Regions from separate parts of the Homo sapiens genome. Here region 1 is linked to region 2. The links come from fine-mapping of genetic effects on gene expression. A gene starts in region 2. The other region holds a variant in brackets. All regions are shown on one strand. Distances are between the middles of the regions. Region 1 overlaps LINC02250 (long intergenic non-protein coding RNA 2250). Region 2 holds the start of UBE3A (ubiquitin protein ligase E3A).

The links. PIP is the estimated chance that this variant, and not a neighbour inherited with it, causes the effect. A credible set is the group of variants that fine-mapping cannot tell apart.
Region 1: its variant is the best candidate, but not a certain one, in a credible set for the expression of UBE3A in thyroid (GTEx, PIP 0.65).

The regions. Positions count from the first base shown.
Region 1 is chr15:25,476,766-25,479,672 of GRCh38, reverse strand. The region is part of intron 4 of LINC02250 (long intergenic non-protein coding RNA 2250); the gene reads left to right. Among named protein-coding and RNA genes, the nearest start is that of UBE3A, 39 kb to the right of the region's middle. The variant G/A (reference allele first, on the strand shown) is at 1,210.
Region 2 is chr15:25,437,312-25,440,218 of GRCh38, reverse strand. UBE3A (ubiquitin protein ligase E3A) reads left to right here and starts at 1,195. Exons shown (of 13, transcript NM_130839.5): 1 at 1,195-1,730. RefSeq lists enhancers at 188-1,133, 1,134-2,079 and silencers at 931-1,270, 1,631-2,050.

The DNA of each region.
Region 1 (2,907 bases), 39 kb before region 2:
CTTCCCCTCCTCATTTGACCAGCTACTAAGTCCTAGCACTAAGAGCTATTCACTACCAATAATTCACATGAACTGTATGAAGGACCCAGATAAGTTGGCAGTGATAATGGAAATTGCAAGGAGTAGCAAAGACGTACTCAAGAGCTGACCTGTGTGAACCTGAAGCCCCTGTTTCTGCTCAGCATCACAGGGGCTTGATGTGTGTAAAGCACATCCCAGGAAGCACATAGGAAACCAACTGTATTATAGTGATTTTTCTTATTTATTTTGTATCCATCTCTACTAAACTAATGCTGGACAAGGGACTCTCATGGGTTTTCTAGCCTTGCCATTTAGCAATAGTGGTCATTTACTTTCTTTCTTTGCCATAATTATATTTCTTATTTATATTTCATTTCTATTACATTCTAAGACATTCTTAAATAATAAAACAACCAAATGTCCAGACTCTCATTCAGAGTGTCTCATGTGCTGAGAAAGCTTCTTGAAGGGACTAGGAACTTGTTGCAGTTTCCATTGTGGGGTTGTGCATGTTTTTTAGACACCTGCGCAGGCACCAGCTTTAGTGGGGAAAAAAAAAAAAAAAAAGGCTTTGTAAGGGCTGTATTCAAAATGCCAGTTAACGCCCATCACCATTTAACAGCAGTTAGGAACACTAACAGTGTACCCTGCATACATTATTACCCAGTTAGATATTTTTATTGCTAGCAGATTCATGTCCCTAAAGAAGGAAAGGAAATGAGGCTTAGATGGGAACACGACAGGCACTGTGCTCAGGAACCAGGCTGTGTGTACAGGGATGCTGAGAGGCAAAGCTCCTGAAACCTTCTTTCCTAAGGGGGATCTGAATACCTCAATGCTACACAGGAAGTGGAGGATGTAGTTCTCTCTGTATTTCATTCACTCTGCAAAGACAAAAAAAAAAACAAAAAGTCTCTAGCAATTTATTGAAATTATCCTGTAATCACAAGGTTAACATCAGCAGTACCATTTTTCTGTACAAAGGAAGAAACTAGGCTTTTAGTTTTATTTTCAGTGAAATCATTAAAACACAACATTCCCCAAGGCCTTTCTACCAGTGGGATCAGCCACAGTGATGTGAAGTGCCGGGTGTCTGGCTTTGTTTGTCAGAGAACTGAGAACACTCAGGGCAAATATTAAGTCACAGATTTTCTGCAGAGTCATCGCTTGCCATGGTCTCTCACCCAG[G/A]CAGCTCTGCATTCAGGTGGAGAAGGTGGAAATTAGGGAGTCATTAGTTGGCCTCCATCAAAACAGCATCATTGGTTCACTATGTCTCCAAGTAAAGCATCTACCATGTTTCAGGAACTGGGTTTGGTACAGTGATGAACTACACGAGTAAGGCCACTAGCCTTTCAAAACTCAGAATCTAGTGAGGGGAAGTATCAATAAATTTGTTAAAACATATATAAATTAGGAAATGCACTCTGAAGGAAAATAACAGGAGCTATAAGAGAGAGAATGATAGCTGCTTTAAATCACATTCACAGGCAAGGCCTCTTTCTGATATGGATGCTGTCACACCAAGAACATGACATAGTCCCTTGTGAGGAGGAAGCCTGCGGTGGGGGGCATAAGCTCCAGACAGCTGCAGTGCAAAGGCCTGAGGCAGAAAAGGGCTCTGCACATCAGGAAGCTATACGGAAGCCGGGACCCTAAGGCAGCAGACAGCAAGGAACAGGACAGGGCTGCACGTGACCAGGGGGCAGGAACGGGGCTCTGCAGGCTTTGTTGGAGGGTCTGGATTGGAGCTGACTGGTGAGTTTTGTTTGTTTGGAGGATAATAAGAGTAAATGTGGAGTACTGGGGACAAACACTGGACTGCAGAGAACTGAGGAGAAAGGTGGGGAAACAGGCAACAAGCATGGGGTTTGTTTCTTCGGGAGAAGTCAACTATAAAGGAATGCAGAGAAGAGGTGTTGAGAGAGGATTCTGTTTTCAGTGGGGAAGTGAGCATACTTACAGAGTAGGGAATGACTCAATAAAAATAAATGAATATGGAGAGGATGGTTACTCTCCATGGAGCAGGGAGTATTTCTCAAGGAAGGCCCACCAAATCCTATGGGAAGTTCTCCTGGGGGGGCTAAAGACAAAAATCCCTGGGCAACACCCAGCATCAGAACACAAAGGGGGAAAGGCCCAGAAATTCTCATTTTTCACAACGTCCTTAGTGTAAAAGCTTGGTGCCACCATGGTAGTCTGAGTAGGCCAGCTTCCAACAGGGGAAGGACACTCAATCCTTTGAGACTGGAAGACAATGAGGGCAGATGTAGTACAAGAAATGGCAGATCTGTCAGTGTAGGTGAGAGCAGAGAAAAGCTCACCCCAGAGGGCAAAGAGCCCACTCTCCCAGGCCTGCAGGAACACCAAAAAACACCCCTCTGCTTCTTAGCACTTTCTAACAGTTATGCTGAACGCCAGACAAACCTGATTCTCCTGGGCCCTTCTAAGTGTGTTAATTTGAGTGATGGCTGACCATCCTCTCAAGTGGGTTACAGTAGCCCTTCCCCCTAGGTCAGCGGCACCTGAAATGGATGCCAGAAAGACTGGAACAGAAGAAAACTGAAACTTGGCAGGTGCATGGACTCAGGATTTCTCTCTTCCTCTGTCTGGGCCCTGCTTGGGATACACACAACAGACTCTTGGCTACAGACTGATTCAGATTTAACCAACTGGTGAAGAGCCTATTGATATGGGCTTAGGATTGGTTACGATTTTCTTAGGACTTGGACAGGCTTGAGTGAAAATTAATGTTCTTAGTTTCAGAAGCTGAAAGGAGCTATGGAAAGTGAGAATTAATAGTTTCCCATTATTTTTTAAACACTTCCTCCTAGTTTTTGCATATCATTAATGATTTTCTGTTGAATAACAAAATATGGAAAAATTAAC
Region 2 (2,907 bases):
ACTGACAGTTAAAAATTACACTGCTGGCCGAGCACTGTGGCTCATGCCTGTAGTCCCAAAACTTTGGGAGGCCGAGGTGGGAGGATCACTTGAGGCCAGGAGCTCGAGACCAGCCTGGGCCTAACATAGCAAGACACCATTTCTAAGTTTAAAAATAAAAATAAATTTAAAAAAGATACACTGCTATGTACGACTGTTGATATAAAAAATCTGAATACTAGACATGGGTACTCATCTAGTACTTCAAGGGCTTATCAACAAAGTTGCAAGTTGTAACACTATGAATTGTTAGTGATACTCTTTTGGCTTTGCTAGCAAGTGTTGTAAAGCTATACACACACACACACACACACACACACATACACACACACACCTTTTAAAATGGTGACCCTGGTACCAAATATGACTTTAAATGGATTTAATTTTAATGGCTTTAACTACGTTCAGCTGTCATATGGATCAAAATTAGCCTCTATCCAGCTGGGGTCAACCAGGGAGCCACTTTTCTTAACCGACGACCTACTGAACGTCAACAACTGCAGGAGACGGGACTTTACCTTCGTCTCTGGTAAACTAGTTGACACATCCTGTGTTGGCAAGAGGCCTAAGTAGATGACCTTGGTCCTCTAAAATCTGGCCTGCACTCTCGGGGCACCCCTGCAACATCTACAAAGGCAGCTCCAGATAGAAAAGGGTTGGGGTCGAAAAGCCAATAACGGCAGGCACCTGCCCCGCCTCGGGGCTGGGGGGCTATTCCAGCGGCTTCAGCTAACTTTCAGAGCCATTCGTTTCCCAACAAAGTCTGAGGCGTTCCTCTGCTGGGTACACCAAGGGGCTCTGCAACCCTCCTGGGGGGGGGGGTGCCCAGAGGGCTTCCGGAAGTCCCAGGTTTATTCTTTCGGGTCACAGACAGCAGAAACTAAAAAGAGGGATTACCCTTTCTGTCCAGTCGCAAGATGGCGACCGAGCCTGGTGGGACTCCGAGGGGCCGCAGGCCACCTCCTCTTCCCAATGGCCCGTGCGCCGGCGGCGACGGCAAGCGGGAGGGAGGCGGGGCCGGCGAAGGAAGGAGGGGCGGAGCGCGGCGCCCTCCCGCGCGTCTTGGCCCCGCCCCACGTCCCCGCGTCCCGGCCTGGAGCCCTCGCCCGGCCGGGCGGCGCGCGCTGCCTGCCGGGATACTCGGCCCGCCCAGCCAGTCCTCCCGTCTTGCGCCGCGGCCGCGAGATCCGTGTGTCTCCCAAGATGGTGGCGCTGGGCTCGGGGTGACTACAGGAGACGACGGGGCCTTTTCCCTTCGCCAGGACCCGACACACCAGGCTTCGCTCGCTCGCGCACCCCTCCGCCGCGTAGCCATCCGCCAGCGCGGGCGCCCGCCATCCGCCGCCTACTTACGCTTCACCTCTGCCGACCCGGCGCGCTCGGCTGCGGGCGGCGGCGCCTCCTTCGGCTCCTCCTCGGAATAGCTCGCGGCCTGTAGCCCCTGGCAGGAGGGCCCCTCAGCCCCCCGGTGTGGACAGGCAGCGGCGGCTGGCGACGAACGCCGGGATTTCGGCGGCCCCGGCGCTCCCTTTCCCGGCCTCGTTTTCCGGATAAGGAAGCGCGGGTCCCGCATGAGCCCCGGCGGTGGCGGCAGCGAAAGAGAACGAGGCGGTGGCGGGCGGAGGCGGCGGGCGAGGGCGACTACGACCAGTGAGGCGGCCGCCGCAGCCCAGGCGCGGGGGCGACGACAGGTCAGTGTTGCCGCGGCCTGCGCCAGGCGGCGCTGGCTCCCCTCCGTCACTCGGCCGGCCTTCGGGGCCCGCTGTGGCGAGGTCGACACCCCCCTTCCCCGCCCCCCGCCGCCGAGGCGAGTGTTTGGGGGCGCGTGGTCCGAAGGGGCTGGTGCCAGAAGTAGGCCCCTGGTGGCCGCGGCTGCTGCAGCCGTAACTGTCAGTCCTGGCTGAGCGACGGCGGGAGGGTTTTGTCGCCCGAGGGGACGCGAGCGGGCCCGGGGCGGGGCGGGACGTGCGAGGCGTCGAGATTTGGGCCTCCTAGGAGCCAGGCTCTTCGAGCCAGCCGGGGCCCCAGACAGGGAAGGGCAGGCCCTTTCCTTCAAAGGGGAGCCCTTTCTCGGCGTTTTCAAGGTTTTTGGCTCTCTTGGGGAAGACATATTTAGCCGTGTGCTTGGTGGGTTGGGGTTTTGGGGGTGGATTGATGGGAAGGGAGGGCGGATGAAGTGGTATGTCAAGCCCAAGGGTTGTGCGCACAGGTTACTCTGTGTTACCGGCCACCAGGATTTCTGAAGTTGAACGTGAGTTATTGGCTTTGCCAGAGACTGCTGTGTTATATGCAGACCTGTATGCAAGCAGTTGGCCTTTTTTCCCCCCCCTTTTCAGTGTAGAAAATGAAAAGGATGCTTTCCTCATCTTGGTGGTAAAGGCTTTTGTTGGTAAAGGTAGAATTGAATGTACCAAATGCCTTAGTCCGTAAAATTTTAGAAATAATTTTAATACAGACACTGGTGAAGCTTGGCAACCTTGAAAGAGAATTTAGCGTCTACATTTTTTAAATGACTTTTTATGGATATGCTAAATTAGTAACAGTCCAAAATCTGTTTGAGATTATTAAGTGGCGAGGGTGCTGTTGAAAATGTAAACTAATAGCATATGGGGTTTACAGTGCACAGTTAACCTCAATCATGAAGAAATGTGGATATGACCCGTAATTTTGGATCATTTTACTGCCTGCAATATTGAGAGAAGCAGCAAATTATTACAGTTTTTTTTGGGAGACGACCTAAAGTTTAAGAAATACAACTGTTGAAAGTTACCTGTCAGAGACACAAAGGTACCCAATCAATCTTGTTGAATAAATTGGACAAGTGGGATAAGGTGTTTGTCTCACACTTCTGATCAATAAGTACTCTTA